6 separate regions of the Homo sapiens genome follow, and all the other regions are reported to be linked to region 4. Evidence: microRNA targets listed by miRTarBase, many of them from high-throughput screens and not tested one by one. Region 4 holds a microRNA gene; each other region holds the end of a gene's coding sequence. Distances are from middle to middle.

Evidence for each region. Region 4 holds the annotated microRNA hsa-miR-5193 (UCCUCCUCUACCUCAUCCCAGU, at 1,480-1,501, opposite strand). A microRNA usually pairs through its seed, bases 2 to 8, with sites in the 3' UTR of a target mRNA and lowers its output. Matches are read on the target gene's strand: a 7mer-m8 pairs with bases 2 to 8, a 7mer-A1 pairs with bases 2 to 7 and ends in A, and an 8mer does both.
Region 1: miRTarBase lists COL19A1 as a target of hsa-miR-5193. The part of its 3' UTR that is shown has no 7-base or 8-base seed match.
Region 2: the mRNA of TASOR is a reported target of hsa-miR-5193. Seed matches in the 3' UTR shown: 7mer-A1 at 492-498.
Region 3: the mRNA of ASB7 is a reported target of hsa-miR-5193. Seed matches in the 3' UTR shown: 7mer-A1 at 2,327-2,333 and 7mer-m8 at 2,329-2,335.
Region 5: miRTarBase lists GTPBP10 as a target of hsa-miR-5193. Seed matches in the 3' UTR shown: 7mer-m8 at 1,084-1,090.
Region 6: the mRNA of TMEM45B is a reported target of hsa-miR-5193. The part of its 3' UTR that is shown has no 7-base or 8-base seed match.

The regions. Positions count from the first base shown.
Region 1 is chr6:70,206,660-70,209,784 of GRCh38, reverse strand. It overlaps COL19A1 (collagen type XIX alpha 1 chain), which reads right to left. Exons shown (of 51, transcript NM_001858.6): 50 at 2,807-2,884; 51 at 1-2,638. The coding sequence ends at 2,511. Among named protein-coding and RNA genes, the nearest start is that of COL9A1, 95 kb to the left of the region's middle.
Region 2 is chr3:56,620,239-56,623,238 of GRCh38, reverse strand. TASOR (transcription activation suppressor) reads left to right here. Exons shown (of 24, transcript NM_001365635.2): 24 at 1-3,000. The coding sequence ends at 202. It overlaps CCDC66 (coiled-coil domain containing 66), which reads right to left. Exons shown (of 18, transcript NM_001141947.3): 18 at 1,402-1,707. The coding sequence ends at 1,621. Among named protein-coding and RNA genes, the nearest start is that of TASOR, 62 kb to the left of the region's middle.
Region 3 is chr15:100,648,120-100,651,244 of GRCh38, forward strand. ASB7 (ankyrin repeat and SOCS box containing 7) reads left to right here. Exons shown (of 6, transcript NM_198243.3): 6 at 204-3,125. The coding sequence ends at 343. Among named protein-coding and RNA genes, the nearest start is that of ASB7, 47 kb to the left of the region's middle.
Region 4 is chr3:49,804,686-49,807,810 of GRCh38, forward strand. It overlaps MIR5193 (microRNA 5193), which reads right to left and starts at 1,560; the gene lies at 1,452-1,560. INKA1 (inka box actin regulator 1) reads left to right here. Exons shown (of 2, transcript NM_203370.2): 2 at 1-345. The coding sequence ends at 302. UBA7 (ubiquitin like modifier activating enzyme 7) reads right to left here. Exons shown (of 24, transcript NM_003335.3): 21 at 3,051-3,125; 22 at 1,388-1,480; 23 at 1,212-1,312; 24 at 524-752. The coding sequence ends at 623. RefSeq lists enhancers at 1,531-1,825, 1,812-2,091, 2,721-3,125, 2,822-2,991, 3,092-3,125.
Region 5 is chr7:90,384,739-90,387,863 of GRCh38, forward strand. It overlaps GTPBP10 (GTP binding protein 10), which reads left to right. Exons shown (of 10, transcript NM_033107.4): 10 at 154-3,125. The coding sequence ends at 416. Among named protein-coding and RNA genes, the nearest start is that of CLDN12, 17 kb to the right of the region's middle.
Region 6 is chr11:129,858,445-129,861,562 of GRCh38, forward strand. It overlaps TMEM45B (transmembrane protein 45B), which reads left to right. Exons shown (of 6, transcript NM_138788.5): 6 at 130-1,559. The coding sequence ends at 241. Among named protein-coding and RNA genes, the nearest start is that of NFRKB, 36 kb to the right of the region's middle.

The DNA.
Region 1 (3,125 bases), not on the chromosome of region 4:
TAATAGAGTAGGGTGAGAAAGGCTTGTACCATGTGGATACAGCCTTGTTTCTCTAGTTACGTCAAATTTAGTCATATTTCCCAGTTACAAAAAATGAGTTTGTGTCATTGTGACAAGTCCACTTTGTAATATGCATCACACAATATTATATTTCCCCATCCCATCAAATTACCTGAATAAATCCAAATCCTTGAAATAGGAATTAACCAGTCAAGCCTTAATGGTATTTAGAAAGATTTCTAAATATACAATTCATAAGAAAGAATGCATGACATATTTTGTAGAATAAAAATGAACAGAGTTAATAAAACAAGAAAATGAATTGTCTTTTTATGTCTATGACAAGAACAACTCAAAAACCAAAAAACAAAAAAAGTTGATTACCATCAGCAAAAAAGTCCATGAAAACATTAAAATGATAAAATAAATATTTTTAAATTAGCAAACAGGCAAAAAGATAAACAACCTATTAATATGAAAAAATAATCTTTGAAAACATATAAAATATTTAGCTTTATGACAAATTCAAGTAAATTAATATGAGTGGCAGATAAGTTGTAAGCGTTTAGAAAATTCAACAAATTAAAAGCTCAAGATATACACATAGCACCAAATTTTAGATCTATGTACACTTTTTCGGGATAAATTACCATTTTACTAAGAAAACACATACGTATGTCCCAATTGTGTAAGTTTAAAACACAGCACCATTGTAGGTATTGCACAAGAAAGAAAACGAAAAAAAAAAAATCAATGTCAAAATGCTTACAATAAATAAAATAACCTTGGAAAATAAATAAACTTGGAATTGAAATATACAGCATAATTCAATATGAAATACCTAAAATGTTATAGGTATGCACAGCCATTGTAGACAGTACCTGACCAGCAGTTCATTAATCTATAATGAAAACCGGTTCAAATCACGGATGCATTGGAACAAACCCTGCCTTAAATTAGGCACATTCCTCAGACACAACTCTGTTCACAGCTTTTTCCAATGTCAGTGGGCTAGCCTTTCTAAACTCATTTTTCAGTAAACAGACAAAAGCAATCATCCTGTTTTAGCCAAATTGAAATCTGCACTGCTCCTTGAAGAGCTGTGAGTCCTGATTGCTGTGGCTGGCAGGCTCTTGCAGCATGTTCTCACATCTGTGGGACCCACCATCTAGATTTCTGCAACATCCTCATGCCCAGTGTTCTAGAGAATCAGTGCCTGCCAATCAACAGTTCCTCAATGAATGTACAGCTAACCAACAGAAAGACTGTTTAGGCATTTGATGATCACTGTATTTTTGTTTCTTTTCAGAGGACATGGTTTTAGAGTGGGTGTGAACTCTTTGGTCTGAGCACTAGTTGCATATCCAGTCCTGTGGTTTTCCTTTGTTGAGCTGTACCTCTTGCTGCAGCTTCTGGAGAAATACAATTCTCCTTAAGAGCTTTTGGGCTTCACCTTCTTAACATGCATTTGCTGACACTACACATTCATCTTCTAGGACAAGTGAGTCCATTCTATACGTATCCCATCCTTTGTTTTGATGGTGGCTTCTTGTCTTAAAGTCTGAGGGTGATGAGGTCATAAGGATAATGGATACAAGGGCCCAAAGATCTTGCTAGGCCACTGAAGCTTTAAGAGTACCAAAGACAGCTTGGTGGCTTCACCACCAAGCACCTTGTAGGGAAAACAGCTTTCTGTTTACCAAATGAGAGACTGAGTGAGGGGACCACAGAATATTAGGCTTTTTTTGCAGAACTCATACAAAACTGGAATTTGATACTCCCTTTTCATGCAGTACTTATTCATGCCAGTGGTGATTGCTTTGAATTGAGCTCATTATACAGAATTAACAAAATCATTTCAGTAGTTGGCTATGCTGGGTGTTTGGGCTCCCTGATAAAACAGTTTCCTGCATTTTTTTTTTGAAAACATAAATTGTAAAATGAAGTTCTTATTGCCTATTTTTCTGCATAAGTAGGATAGATGTAGATGGTATAAAAATTCTTAAGTTATAAAAAGTAGTCAAAAAACATTCAACAGGAGCAATGCACTATATCAAAAAAGTTGACGAGATGTTTAGCAATGATAGTAAATTTAAACACCAAGGAAAAGATAAGTCTGAAACTTTAAAATTCAGAAATCAAAGGCCAACCACATGTTGATGAGTCTACAAAATGGATATCATCATCAGTCTACTAAGTCACAAGATGCAATTTCCTTTTGAAGAAGAACTAACGATAAGATTTACTTGCATATTTCATATAAAACTCTGAGTAAAAATCATAGCAATTGTAAAGCAAAACATATGGAATGAATTTGGGAAAAATCAAAAAATGCTGATTTGCAATTGCTATAGGAATAGGATTCAAACGGTTGCTTTTAATGCCTGGCTTACTCCCAAAAAAAAAAAAAAAAAAAAAAAGCAACCCACAGATGATGAGGGTTTGACGGTATTAAGAGAGCTCCAGTGGCAAGGAAATGTTACCAGGAACCAAGTCTTCTTCAGGTGTGTTCAATTCCCACCTGTGCGCTGATGGGCATGAGACACAGGATAGAGGCAATCTTCTGGGTTACATCTTCCACTGGGTCCTGGGGGGCCCTGTGGGCCTGGGGCACCTGGTGAGCCTGGCAAACCCAGAGCTAACGACATAAAAAAAAAATTACAATGCAGATCACATATGGCCCTTCCTCTCTCCCACCCTCTAGCCAACATGGATCACTCGACTTGACATATAAGGACCCTAGGGGAGAAGCATGGTTCTAATTTGTAAAGGCTTGCTTGTGTTGTGAAGACAATATCCCACTTACCTGAAGTCCCAGGAAGACCTGGACTCCCTGGCAGCCCAATTCCAGGTTCACCTCTTTCTCCCTTCTGTCCTCTGTAGCCTAAGTGAGAAATATATAAAAAAGAGACACACAAAAAGGGTTCTATGGCAACACAGCACAGAGAAGAACCATTTTCTGAGTCTGTGATAATTATGTGATACATTTGCTTAAAATAAATAGTATATTAGCTAACTGTTTTGCATTAACCACATATTAAACTTACATATCAAACAGATTGGGTATAATAGGGCAATGAGGATCTTAAAAAACATGCAATTACTATAAAAAGTTCCAACTAGTC
Region 2 (3,000 bases), 6.8 Mb from region 4:
GTCCCATCAGTTTAGTCATTTTAATGTTCTCACTCATCAGACATTTTTGGGGACACCATATGCCCTTTCATCAAGTCAGTCTCAAGAAAATGAGAATTACTTCTTATCTGCTTATACTGAAAGCTTGGATAGAGATAAATCTCCACCTCCCTTAAGTTGGGGGAAAAGTGATTCTTCCAGGCCATATTCACAAGAGAAATAACTGTAGTAACTTTTTTTTTAAGAGATTGTTGTGGACTTTGTTTATTAACAATTTATATTTCATTCTCTAAACAAAAGGTTCTTGTTCTTTCTCAAATGTTTTTTCTTTTATTTAAATCATGATGGCCTGTAACAGTTGAAGCATCTAAAAATTGAAATAAATATATATTTTTAACATATATTGTACTTGAATTATCTCATGTTGGCACTTCTAAGTTTTACTTTTTGTATGTTACCTGTACTTAGGCTTCAAATTGAAGCCTGTTTTATGTGTAAAATCAGATGCTTGCAGGAGGACGGTAAACAGCAAAGGCTTTACTTCTTTTTCTCTAATGTCACCTGATATAAAGTACTTTTGTTGAAGTGAATTATTTTGATGTAGGCTTTTGTATACTGTGTTTACACAGGTATAAGTCAGTAATAGCAGTGTTAATATTTACAGGATTTTGGCTCGATACCTCAAGATTTATCTAACAGTGCAGTTTCATTTAGATAATAAACTATGTACATAGGACACATTTTTTATCTCTAGGCTTAGTCATGTAAAAACTGCCTATTGCTAAAATTCTGGTAACTTTTTGAGAGTATTGGATAATTTTCAGTACCTGCGCAATCCTTGATTTAATGAAATTAAATTTTTTATTTCAAAAGATAGGCTTCTGTTTATCAAAGGCGTTGAACAATTTGATTTTTAAATTAGTTTTAGCAAAATGGAAGTATAATGGGAATATATTTTTGAGGTGGTCTTAGTAGTAATTACCATTTGTTGAACACATTAATGCTATACTAGACAGATACAGTGGAGATAGCTTTCAAACCCGTATCTATTCCTAACTACTGCCTCTAATACTAATTACTAACTTGTTACTAATGCTAACTTTTAAAAATGTTTTTGAAAATTGCAATTTCTACAAATAAATGTCATAGTGCAAATAAATGTCAGGATTTAGAGAAGGAGCCTAAACTGAATTTGTGTTATTTCAGTAAAAGTTATGGAGTTATGGGTCTAGACGTGTTAATAAGTTAGACAGAACTTTGGCACTTTAGAACAAATGCATGAGTGGTATTTCAGTTCCTAAGTTACATAAAAAGTGTGAAAGAACACTGTGAGGTCCCAGCAACGCCAGACTATATTAAGGTAAGTAGAAAGTGTTTTTATAGGGCTTCAATACCCAGGTGGTGACAGAGCAGAAGAACCGGTTTTTTTTTTTTTTTTTTTACTACTAAGCTTTTACAAAAGAAGTATCTGTTTTATTGTATAGAACAAGTACAGCATTTTACTACATAGTATACAAGTTTTTAATGAGCATTTAAAAAAATAAGTAAATCTAGGCTATTTGAAAAATACAGTTGAGCCAGTGAGCACATTTTATAATTTGGAAGACACAAATCAAATGTGAAGGATTTGATTTTCTACATTTAAAATGAAGAACCAAAACTCTCTTCTTGATTTTCAGCTAAAGGCAGGAGACTACTTTCCAACTCCTTTTGCTTCTGGAGAAGGCCCTGAAATCACATTGATATATGTTTGTTAGTAAAATGTGCACACCTGACTTGCAATGTTGTGTTAAACTAGAATTATATTCACTTGGAAAACATATCGCTTAGGATAAAATTTTGTCATTCAAAAATTTTTTCAGAAATGCTTGTACTAGACCACCTCATTTGGATATATAGCTATCACATTTGTAAGATTCTGTTTTTAGCATAAAAATCAATAGGGATGAAAATTTTCTTAGAACTCAAGACTCCATAACTATGGGGGTAAATGAAGTCATCCCTTCTCCCCCAGTCCACCCCCAAGTGCTCTTAGATACTGAAGGAGTCTCCCTTAACATACAGTGTTTTTTTTTTGTTGTTGTTGTTTTGTTTTTTTTTGGAGATGGAGTCTCGCTCTGTCGCCCAAGCTGGAGTACAGTGGTGCAATCTCACTGCAAGCTCTGCCTCCCAGGTTCACACCATTCTCCTGCCTCAACCTCCCGAATGGCTGGGACTACAGGCACCCACCACCACGCCTGGCTAACTAACTAACTAACTTTTTGTATTTTTAGTAGAGACAGGGTTTCACTGTGTTAGCCAGGATGGTCTTGATCTCCTGACCTCATGATCTGCCTGCCTCAGCCTCCCAAAGTGCTGGGATTACAGGCTTGAGCCACTGCTCCTGGCCAACATCCAGTATTTTATCTTGACTGTCCTAACCTTACCTTAGATGCTAACAGAAGGGTCCTGCTGAAATAACACTGGGTGCTATATTGATGGGTAAATGTGTACATCCTATTCCTTCCTCTTTATCTCACAATTTTTGTCTCCACTAAGCAAGAAGTAAACTAACACTTCGTCACTCTAAAGAAATAACTTATGTAAAACTCTTAGTAACCCTGTTTGTCTTCAAATGAGTAAATAGACCAAAGTGGGGGGACAATTTTCTAGTTCTGTAGAGGGAAAAACATCTGAGTCAACATTTTGAAATGCAGAGGGTATTGGTACATGACGACATGGAAAAGGGCACTTTTAAACACAGCTTACTCTTCCTCAAGTACAGAGAGTATATAGTGAATCAAAACTAACTACAGCCATTCTTTTTAAAGCCCAAGGGATGGAGCAAAGGTGTAAGGATGTTACCTGTTTGTTTTAATCAGAGAGCAAAAAGAAGTCACAATAGTTTGGGAGAAAAAGTAGTATGGTGAGTAAGGTTATGCGTATAATTTCATACTGAATTTATTACTATTTGGGATGTACGTCAATGTTCTAACAAACACTGCCAACACGTCAATTTTTTAAAAAGCGTGGGCCACATTG
Region 3 (3,125 bases), not on the chromosome of region 4:
ATATCCACCATCCCACGGTTGTGAAAAGGATCAAATAAGGCATCGCATGAAGGTCCTAGGACACTTTGAGTTGGTATCTTTCCGGTCCTTTGCATGTCAAGTCCATAGAGAGAACTTCCAGGGAAATGAACAGTTCTTTTCAAAAGTGCCTTAAATATTGTGCTTTGTGGCTTTGTAACATTTTCTTTTTTCTGTCTTTTTAGGACAGCCCAGAAACTTGCAGGACCTGTGCCGAATTAAAATTCGACAATGTATAGGCCTTCAAAACCTAAAGCTACTTGATGAACTACCAATTGCCAAGGTCATGAAAGACTACTTAAAACACAAATTTGATGATATCTGATATGCCAGAACTGTGAGCAAGATTAGGAGTTCTATTCTAGATACTTAAAAGGCTTTTTGCCTTGCACAAAGTATATCCTATGCAATTTCTGATTTGCTGTGAAATCAGAAAGCAGGTATACACTTTTGGGTTTTCTGTTTGTTTGGTTGGTTTTCATTGTAGGGGAGGGATTTTTTATATATATATAAAAACACACACCACATGCTTGAAGGTCTTAATTTGGTTTCTTGGTCCAAGTTTAAGAGGTCCAAGCTTTGTATACAATACTGCATTTAGAAAAATTGTCTTTTCTTAAATGACACAAGCAGGTTTAGAGTGGAGAATTTACCCTTTCCAAATTTATGGTTCCTTGGTAAGCACGGTATTCTAAACCAGCAGAGCACTTGTTAACGTTTGGAGGCACAGTTTCACCCAGGGCGACCCTGGGTTCTTTTGGAAAATGCCCTAAGAAATGTTTGAAGTAACGCTGTCACCTCATTCATTTTTAATGAGTACAAACTGGCCGTTTCAAACTGTTCTTTTTCCTAATTAATGTAGCTTTCGGATGACATAAATCCAGTATCTCTGCTTATGACATAAATCCAGTACCTCTGCTTTTCTTTTGCTGTGCTCTTGTTTTTAACTTATTTTTTTTTTAACAACTGTAGTACACTACCCTGAGACACTGCATCTCGATTTCTATCTCTAGTTAGAGTTGTACTTTTAAAAAAATTAACGGGAAAGAAAATAACTTTGTGAAGCCAGTGTATTCTGTTTTTAAAACTGTGCCTGCAGTGCAATACTCCTTCTGGTGTATTTTATCCATTATTTCACTTGCTGGTCGTCATTTCACAGCCAGCTTTGACATGCCCGTGAGGACAGGAGCCGCCGCTTCAGTTGTCACTGCAGAGCCATCGTATGTCAGTTGCAATTTCCATCTGAAGCTATGTCTTTGACTTCACTTTAAGCAGAAAATTTTGTACCCTGGTGGTCGAGTCTTCCCTTAAAAATTGTTAAATCATTTGGCTTTAATGGTTCAATAATTTGGGGTGGCTTCATGGTGTTTCTTTTCTTCCCAGTTTAAAAAAAAAACTTTTTAAGCGTAAAATCTTTAAGGGGTACACATTTATAAGTCTGGCTAATTTCTAATATGCTAATTAAACATTTCCCATTTTAAGGTTATATACAGTGAGGCTCTTCAGGACAATTATTTTCTGGGTTGATTGGGCATATGTTTGCCGTGTAAACACGGATATGATAAAGTGTCAGTAACAATGGAAAAGGTCCCAGAGGCATTAGGCATCTAAGAGGATGCCCTCAGAAACGTATTCTGGCTTGATTTGTGTTATTAACTTCAGAAGAACCTTTTCAAATGTCCCAGTATCGTTCTTAGTGCTTTGGGAAAAAATATTTAACACACTGTTAATAAATTTGTTATCAGAAGTTTACAAGACGAAGGGCTTCTCTCGTCTGAATTTCTAGATTTAAGTCATGAAGTGTAAAACTGTTTCACCCAGAAGTGTAACTAAGCAGAACTAGGAGTTTTCTCTGGCTTCACCTTTTTCAGAGCCAGCAGTGCTGTTTTCTCAAGCACAGCGTTTGCTCTTAGACTCTGATCTGCTTGTGCCTAAGCATTGCACAGGTTTCCGAAGACGGGCAGCTTCAGAGAAGAGGATTATTCGGGAGATTGCTGGTGTGGCCCATAGACTCTTTGGCATAGACTCTTTCGCAGGCAGCCACTCTGAGTGTGGCCAGTTCTATAACCATCCCCAAACTAGCTGGAGCCTGATGGATAGGAACGGGTAGTCTGTCCTCTTCCCCATAAAAATGTTCCAAAAAGTTATCTCCAGAGAGAGTCCCTTATGAAGACAGTTGCCAAGCTGTATTCTCATTCTTTAAACCAATACCCAGGTCAGGGCTAGTTCACACTAGCACTGTTAGGGACATGGTGTGGCTAGAAATGAATTGAGTGTGACTTCTCCCTACAACCCCAGGCCCAGGGATAGGAGGAGGCAGAGGGGTGCCTGGAGTTTCTGCACTCTCATCAGTGATGTTCATGTTACACTTGCACAAGGGCTGATTTCCACGTATGTGTGTGTTAATTTATTCACTTAGTTTCAAAAGATTTTCTCTCCCCAGCCATTCAGAGGTTTCCAAACTAAGCCACTGAGTTTGAGTCAGGGAATTCCACGTAAAAAGATCAGATTAAGGTAAATTCTTTGTTCTGTATTGCTGCTGTGACTTCAGAAAAAAAAAATTATGAGAGCTCTTCCTGGAATTTTGAAATTTCTATTTAATGAAGAAGTGTATAATTCCATTATTTATTGTTTGAGGTTTGATTTATCTGGAAGCTTAAAAAGAATGTTTTATTTTTGTTGTTAATAAAATCCCAATCACATTTCACAATAACTAAAATGTCTCCAGGTGGGTTACTGGTAGATGATAGTGGTGACACCTGCAGGTCTGCATTTGAATTGGATTCACAGAGAAGCATTCCATGGTCACATAATGAATAGGGAGAACAGATATTTTCAGAAAAATCAACCGATTGTTTTTTCCAGAAACAGAACAGAAAATGTTCAGAATATTTTCAAATTTGTCAGATTCTTTTATGTTTCCTTTGAAATTTATTATTTAAGCCTATTACTAAACCTTTATAAAAATATATTTGGCAAATACACCAAAGAAACCAGCTTACAAAAGATTATGATCATTAATGAACTGCAAACCTCATCTTTCGAAAACAAGGTTTTGTGTTTTTTTTTTTTTGTAAATATTTGTGTTTATAAATGTACAGCAGAGT
Region 4 (3,125 bases):
TAGGGGACAATTGCTTTGCTGACTTGGTGCACAACTGGATGGAGCTGCCTGAGACAGGGAGTGAAGGGGGTGACGGAGGTGGGCACCGTGCCCGTGCTCGGCCCCCTCAGTTCCTGCTTGGCCTCTCTGAGCAGCTTCGGCGCCGGCTGGCCAGGGCTCGGCGGACAGCTATGGCAGGAAAGCGGCTGTCATGCCCACCTCGCCCAGAACCTGAACTGCCTGCGGATGTCTCACGCTTTGCAGCTCTCATGAGCTGTCGTAGCCGCCAGCCCATCATCTGCAATGATGTCAGCTACCTCTGACCCTGCCCTCCAGCCTGGGACAATAAAAGCCTTTTTTCTAGACTGTCCTGGCTCCATACCCCTGAGGCACTAAGAGGCAGCCCCAGCCCTGTGAGGCACTGCCCAGGGAGACAAATCTTCTGAAGAGCTTTTTTTCTCTGTGTGAAGGTCCCTGTCATGCCCATGTCACACCCGTGTGCATTAGTGCACTGTTTTCTATCGTCCATCCTCTCTGCAATGCCTTCCTTTAACAAGCATTTATTGAGTGCCTACTGTGGGCTTACAATGCAGGGCTTGGGATCCGGGGCTCCATTGAGCTAGGTGACAGGGTGGCTGCCTTGTCACAGCTCATAGTGCAGAGGTGGGAAGGCAGTGTCCTCGTCGTCACCCTCACAGCTCAGCTCTAGCACCAACACCCGCTGCCCAGGAGCAGGTGCCTGGCCTGTCAGCTGCTGAACCAGTTCTGTCACCCTGGTAGGGGTGGGTTTAGGGGAGATTGGAGAGGTGAGCCATGGCAAGCAGAAGGCAGCCTGGCATGGACTAGAGAGGGTGCTGGCAGGCCGTCAGGAGCCCAAGCCAGGAGCAGGAGCTGCTCAAGACAGGAAACATCTGAAACTATTTTAGGAGCAGCTGATGAGGCAAGCAGGAGGCAGGAAGCTATGGGTCCCTTGGGAGTGGGCTGTGAAAGGGGGGCTGTGCAGCATGTGGGGAGCCCATGGGGCTGGCCAAATAGGCAGCTCCTGAAGACTCCTCCTCAGGCTCTCGGCCCTCACCCCACCTCCAGCCTGTTTGCTGGCTCCATTTGGGGAAAGAATGCTTGGGAAGGTGTGAGGGGCCCAGAATGGGGCTGGGAAGACAAAAGGCAGTGTGGTCCCTAGCCCCAGCCTCCAGGGACTGGTGGGGCCTGTCTAAAGCCCCAAGTGGGCTCACCTGAGGGGCAGGTGCTGGGCCTGCTTTTCAGGTGACCATCCGGCCGCATAGAGCAGGGCTGAGCCGTGCAGCAGGATCCTCACCCTCAACCCGTGCTGCTCCTAGAGGAGAAAGGTCAGACACCAGCTGGGCCGGGCTGGGCTGAGCCTGGGGGTTGGGGTAGCAACAGGGCACACCTGAAGATGAGCCAGCAGCGACTCCAGGGTCCTCTCAGGCTGCCCAGCTGGTACCTTCAGACGGTCCCAAGAGGTCCACTTCAGGTGATGGAACTGGGATGAGGTAGAGGAGGAGTCAGAGACTTCTTACCTCCCCCCAACCCCCATCCCAGTTACCAGCAGCCTTTCCTAGGGGAAGAGCTGGACTAGCAGGAAACAGGAGCCAGGGGGTGGGGGGTGGGGGGGAGGTGGGATCTGGGCCCAGAGTCTCAGCCCCCTCCCCGTCCAGGCCGGGGCCAGCACAGGAAATGGGGCTATGGGGCCCGCACAGGGAAACAGACGATCCATCACATGGGCCAGTTGTGAGAGTGGGGGATGAGGGGGTGGTGCTTCCTGAGGAAACCCAGAGCAGGGCCCCTGCAGCCTCTGATAAAGCTGCTTGTTCCTCAAAGACAAGGCTGGGAGCTGGGGGGCACATCCTGTCCCCCAATCTTGTATGTACTGCCAGTGCCTTGGGCTACTCATTGGGACACAGGGGCAAAGGGCACAGTGACCACCAGGGCCCCACTGTCCCAGAGACCCCAGCAGGGATACAATGCATAGAGGCTTCCTCCTCCTGTCCCTTCCTTCCTTCCAAGAGTCTTGGGGTTCTGGGACCTAGAGCTAAGGACAGAAGGATGGCTGGCAGGTATCTAGAGACCAGGACAGGGGGTGCTTATCAGCCCCTGAGAAAACACACTGGGGTCAAGCTGAGACTAGGCTAGAGGTGAGATGGGGGCTTCTCCTTCACCTGCTTCACTCTGTGGACAAAGGCAGCCTGTATGCTGGTTAGAGGCAGGGTGCCTCACAAAGGGGCTCTGTGTGCTAGTCCAGAGGGACCCCAGGCTGCTCAGCAGAAACCCAGTGCTGGCCCATGACCTCTGCCCTCTCCCCTCATGAGGGCATTCCTTCTACCCTCATCCTTGCCCCAAGGAAATGCCAACTGCAGAGCCTGGGCACAAGGCTGGAGGCATTCACAGCGCTGCAGTCACAGGAACACAAATGCCCACAAGCCCAGGAACACACACATGTGTGCCCACATGCATCTCCATGCATGCCCACATTGAGGACACAGGAAGATGGGAGCCCTGCACTCCCATCTGATGCACAGATGTGCAAACTTGCTCCTTCCATACCCACACTCCGGGGATGCCCAGACCCCAGTTGCACTCACAACTGTGACACAAATACACTCAGGGCTGCAGACCCCACACCTCTAGTGGCAAGCCTATTACCTTTTAACTCAGCTTGTAGGAGGTAGGCCAGGGCCCCCGTACCATGCAGGGGGAAGCTAGACTCTTTCTGGGGCTGATGCCCTGGTCCCCTCCCCACTACCTACCCCTCAGGGGTACTCCAAGGAAGGAGGGGACTGTGGGGGATGTCTGGCTCCACTAATGAGTTAAAGCTGCAGCTCCCCCAGATCCTGGGCTTTGGAGGATTGGGGGTGGGGATGGCTGACGGCTGCTTCCTGTGTCTGACAGGTCCCAGCCTGGCTTCATAGCAGGAAGAGGGCTGGAGGGAGTCTTCAGGACTTCTGCACAGTCTGAGTTTCAGTGAGAGCCGGCAGCTAGATTGGGGCCTGTATGGGCAGGTGCAGGGGAAACCCAGGCCTAGTAGGGCTAAGGGTGGGGTATCATGGGCTCACCGTCTGGATGGCTGGGGCAAAAGGCATATAGCGGATGAGGTAGTTTTCAGCCAGATGTAGGTAGCTGTGGCGAAA
Region 5 (3,125 bases), not on the chromosome of region 4:
ATCCAAAGGCTCTGAGAACTTATTAGAAAAGGTGAAAAAAGGCATGAAAAATGCTGGTGTTGGTTCCCTGCTTCACAAATCAAACCATTAACATGGTTTTAACTAACTTTCGAAAACAATGGAAATCAGCTTTGTTTGTGCTCTTTCTTTTAGATTTTCTGCATTTATTTGAAAAAAACATGATTCCAGAGAGGACTGTAGAGTTCCAACATATCATCCCCATATCTGCAGTTACTGGAGAAGGAATCGAAGAATTAAAGAATTGTATAAGAAAGTCACTGGATGAACAGGCCAACCAGGAAAATGATGCACTTCATAAGAAACAGTTGCTTAATTTGTGGATTTCTGATACAATGTCTTCTACTGAGCCACCATCAAAGCATGCTGTTACTACTTCCAAAATGGATATAATTTAAATATATTAAAAATGGTATTGATGGAACAGTATTTAATGCTTAAAAACAAGGAAATCCTTTCATCTGTGACAACCTGGAGGACATGTTAAGTAAAATAAGCCAGGCTTAGAAAGACAAATGCTGCATAATCTCACTGTGGAATCTTAAGTTGAACTCATAGAAGGAGAGAATAGAATGGTGGTTATCAAGGGCTGGTGGGGCAGTGGAGGATTGAGGAGATATTGGTCAAAATTTACAAAATTTCAGTTAGACAAGGCAACTGAGTTCAAGAGATCTGTTGTACAGCTTGGTGACTGTAATTAACAACAATGTATTTTGAAAGTCACTGAGTAAATTTTAAGTGGTTTTTCCAAAAAAGCACATAAGGTAATGCACGTTAATTAGCTATATTGAGCCATTCCACAATGTATAGATATTTCAAAACATGTTACACATGATAAATCCAGTTTTTCTACGTCATTTTTTAAAATTATATTTAATTTTTTTATTTTGAAAGTTTTTTCACAGATCTTTTTTTTAGTATTATTACCTTCTGATATATGTGTCATTATTGAAGAACCATACCTTTTAAAGTTATTATTTTGTAATTAAGTATGTCAACAGTAAAAAATAACCAGTGGCCAGGCATGGTGGCTCATGCCTGTAATCCCAGCACTTTTCGGAGGCCGAGGAGGGCAGATCACTTGAGGTCAGGAGTTCAAGACCAGCCTGGCCAACATGGCGAAACCCCGTCTCTACTAAAAATATAAAAAATTAGCCAGGCATAGTGGCGCATGCCTGTTGTAGCCCCAGCTACTCAAGAGGCTGAGGCAGGAGAATTGCTTGAACGCGGGAGGTGGAGGATACAATGAACCCGAGGTCGCGCCACTGCACTTCAGCCTGGGTGACAGAGCTAGACTCCATCTCAAAAAAAAAAAAGAGCTAAAAAATTACATTTTACAAGTTTATGGCCAGCCCACCTGTAATAACATTCTCTGATATTCCTTTACTTAGGATGTCCCTATTGAGATCATTTTTTAAATTTATGTGGAAGGATTCTCTAGATTATTATTAGAATGAGCAATTCAGTTTTGTTTGTTTTTGAGCCTGTCTTGTACCTGGTTGCACTAAATATATAATAGTTATCTTTTGTGGAGACCTTAAAACCCTAAATTTGAATACATGTTCAATGATAGTAAAGATATGACAGAAACTAGAAGATAGCTGTTTATGATTTGAGCTTTTGGAAAATTTTCGTTTCTTGAATGTAATAGTATTTTTTCCTGAATTGGAGGAGACTGATCTATATTGTTTCATTTTTCTTTTGTCCTAGTCTATTTCACTTTCTTTTGTCATAATCTATTTAATTTCCCACTTTCTTATTTTAGTAAAGAGAGAATAAATAGCAAGTGCAGGCCAGGCATGGTGGTGCAGGCCAGACATAGCGGTACATGCCTGTAATCCTAGCACTTTGGGATGCCAAGGCGGGAGGATTGCTTGAGCCCAGGAGTTCATGCCTGAGCAACATAGCAAGACCCTGGCTCTCTATAAAACAGAAAACGCAAACTTTAATATTATCAACAATCAATATATTATAAGAGATTGCAATTTCTAAGTTTCTACCTGAGTGTTTCACAAATACAAACTGGACATTTTCCCTTTAAATGAGTTTTATTATAAAATGTACATATTGATTGTAAAAACAAAAAATTCAAATAGTACAAAAGCATATAAGTAACTAATAAAAGCTCCCTTTCTGCATTAGGCCCCTCAGTTCTTCCCAGGGAAAATGATTAATAGTTTACATTCTTGCAGAAATTTTTTATGTATAAATTTTTACCCAAATGAATTCATTATATAAATTTTTTCCAACTTAGTGTTTTTTTACATAATAGTAGCAAGTTAAAAAATTGTACTTCAGGCCAGGCACGGTGGGTCACGCCTGTTAATCTCAGCACTTTGGGAGGCTGAGGCAGGAAGACCACTTGAGGTCAGGAGTTCAAGACCAGCCTGGCCAACATGGTGAAAACCCATCTCTACTAAAATACAAAAATCAGCTGGGCATGGTGGCGCATGTCTGTAATCCCAGCTACTCGGGAGGCTGAGGCAGGAGAATCGCTTGAACCCGGGAGGCGGAGGTTGCAGTGAGCTGAGATTGCGCCATTGCACTCCAGCCTGGAGGACAAGAGGGAGACTTCCTCTCAAAAAACAAAATATTGTACTTCAAAAAATTATTCTTCAATGCTATTTTTAAATTACTAGAAATTATTTTGGAATTTAATGTTGCATACAGCCTGAGATATGGCTGTTCACCCTTTGGTAAAGTATTAAAGAAAAATAATGCATTGTTCTCAGCTTAAATTTTTTTCTGATTTGACAACATGAGTGATGTTTTCCCAGTATTATTTCAATTATATTTGTTTTATTTTCTGTTCCTCACTCCTACCTCTCATTCCAGTCCCCAAACTGGCTTTTCTTTTATTTCTTTTTTCTTCATTGCTGATGTATTTATTGAGCAATGTCCTGTATCAGGCACTGTCCAAGGTGCTGTATGTGCCATGTTGAAGAGAACAGACAGGACCTACTGTCCTTGTATATCTTGCCTTTGATAACAGAAACTGCAGGGGATTGGAATAGCCTCTTTACAAGAAAAGAATAAGAGTGAGGAAAAGCGTTTGGAATTTATAGTGATCACAGTGACCAGGTTTTGTATTGGGTATGTTTTACATT
Region 6 (3,118 bases), not on the chromosome of region 4:
GACATGTAATCACAGTATTTGATAGAAATATAAAGAAAATAGTTTAAGAATCAGTAGATGCCTTCACATCCTTGGTAATGGATTAAGGGAATCTCTGGCTAATTGGCTCTTACTCTTTCTCTATTAAAGCCTTTTGACTCGGATGAAGAGACACGGAAGGGGAGAAATCATTGGAATTCAGAAGCTGAATTCAGATGACACTTACCAGACCGCCCTCTTGAGTGGCTCAGATGAGGAATGAGCCGAGATGCGGAGGGCGCAGATGTCCCACTGCACAGCTGGAATGAATGGAGTTCATCCCCTCCACCTGAATGCCTGCTGTGGTCTGATCTTAAGGGTCTATATATTTGCACCTCCTCATTCAACACAGGGCTGGAGGTTCTACAACAGGAAATCAGGCCTACAGCATCCTGTGTATCTTGCAGTTGGGATTTTTAAACATACTATAAAGTCTGTGTTGGTATAGTACCCTTCATAAGGAAAAATGAAGTAATGCCTATAAGTAGCAGGCCTTTGTGCCTCAGTGTCAAGAGAAATCAAGAGATGCTAAAAGCTTTACAATGGAAGTGGCCTCATGGATGAATCCGGGGTATGAGCCCAGGAGAACGTGCTGCTTTTGGTAACTTATCCCTTTTTCTCTTAAGAAAGCAGGTACTTTCTTATTAGAAATATGTTAGAATGTGTAAGCAAACGACAGTGCCTTTAGAATTACAATTCTAACTTACATATTTTTTGAAAGTAAAATAATTCACAAGCTTTGGTATTTTAAAATTATTGTTAAACATATCATAACTAATCATACCAGGGTACTGCAATACCACTGTTTATAAGTGACAAAATTAGGCCAAAGGTGATTTTTTTTTAAATCAGGAAGCTGGTTACTGGCTCTACTGAGAGTTGGAGCCCTGATGTTCTGATTCTTCAAAGTCACCCTAAAAGAAGATCTGACAGGAAAGCTGTATAATGAGATAGAAAAACGTCAGGTATGGAAGGCTTTCAGTTTTAATATGGCTGAAAGCAAAGGATAACGAATTCAGAATTAGTAATGTAAAATCTTGATACCCTAATCTTGCTTCTGGATCTGTTCTTTTTTTAAAAAAACTTCCTTCACCGCGCCTATAATCCTAGCACTTTGGGAGGCCGAGGCAGGCAGATCACGGGGTCAGGAGATCAAGACCATCCTGGCTAACATGGTGAAACCCCGTCTCTACTGAAAATACAAAAAATTAGCCGGGTGTGGTGGCGGGCGCCTGTAGTTCCAGCTACTCGGGAGGCTGAGGCAAGAGAATGGCATGAACCCGGTAGGGGAGCTTGCAGTGAGCCCAGATCATGCCACTGTACTCCAGCCTAGGTGACAGAGCAAGACTCTGTCTCAAAAACAAGCAAACAGACTTCCTTCAACAAATATTTATTAAATATCCACTTTGCAACAGCACTGAAATGGCTGTAAGGACTCCTGAGATATGTGTCCAGCAAGGAGTTTACAGTCAAACAGGAGAGACATGCCTGTAGTTACATCCAGTGTGATGGGTGCTGAGAGGCAAGTACAAACCACGATGAGAAAAAGGAGAGGAGGGGAAATGCAGAGCTTGCCCTGTAGAAAAAGCACATCCCAGGTAGAGAGGGTAGCACATTAAAAAATGAAAGCATAAAAAAATACGGAGAACTTAAAAAGATTAAGTTCTACAAACTGATAAAAGTGAGTTAGGACCAAGTTGATGGGCCTTAGAGACCAAATAATACTTTCCGTGTGCATAGTATTTTTCAGATTCTGAGATGCACCCTATCTCATTTGATTCTCACAACCGCTTGTAATGTGTAAGAGCATGAGGTCTTTCAGAAAAGCTGGCTGGCCTAGCAGGGCGCGGTGGCTCACGCCTGTAATCCCAGCACTTTTGGAGGCCGAGGCGGGTGGATCATGAGGTCAAGAGATCGAGACCATCCTGGCCAACATGGTGAAACCCTGTCTCTACTAAAAATATAAAAATTAGCTTGGTGTGGTGGTGAGCACCTGTAGTCCCAGCTACTTGGGAGGCTGAGGCAGGAGAATCACTTGAACCCAGTAGGCGGAGGTTGCACAGTGAGCCGAGATTATGCCACTGCACTCCAATCTGGCAACAGAGTGAGACTCCATCTCAAAAAAAAAGAAAAGTTGGCTGGCCTAAGACCACACAGATGCTAGGTGGCAAAGCCAGTCTTATGACTCCAAAACCAGGCATCTGTCTCACCATTCTAACCCTGCTACGTCACACAAATCCAGGAGAGAGAATTTACATAAAGCACTGCATGCGCTTTGGAAGAAATGCTGTACTTAATTAAGTGAAGGTAACCTCCCAGAGTTAGCCAGCCTTTCAGAGTTGAAGTCACAGCTTAGGGATTCAAAATGAGCTACTAAAAACACTAATTTAGTTATTAGAGAACTCCGGGTTCCACTTTCAGGATCCACCTTGGTTGGCCAGTGGAAAAACACAAGTATTCTTCATTCAACAAGTACTGAAGGACCTATTATTGGCAATGAACGTAACATGTGTTCTTTCCTTGGGGACTGCAGGTGGGCAGAAGGACCTGTTCAGTTTTACTTTCAAAGAAAAGATCCACATTTGAGGTTTCTTTAAGTGTACCATATTTTAAGAAAGAAAATGTACTATTTTCTCCAGAGTGAGGGGCTAAGGTGTGAAGAACAGATATAAAATATTAAAATGTATTCAGATGCCCTTCACACAGCAAGGCTTGTGATGCCTTCATGGAAGTGATCAACCCTATCATAAACATTGTTAGATGTGGTATTAAAGTATAAACTGATGACAGTACTATTCTCCACATCCTGTCTTAGATATGTTTTCTGAATAATTTTACCCATATCTGTCAACCAGAGGCTCAATGGTTGCCACCAGAAGTCCTTTTGAAATTGTTCCCTACAAAACACCCACCATGGCTGGGTGCAGTGGCTCACGCCTGTAATCCCAGCACTTTGGGAGGCTGAGGCAGACAGATCACCTGAGGTGACAAGTTGGAGACCAGCCTAGCCAAAATGGTGAAACCCCATTTCTACCAAAAATACAAAAATTAGCAGGGCGTGGTGGCACGTGCCTGTGATTGATCCCAACTACTCAGGAGG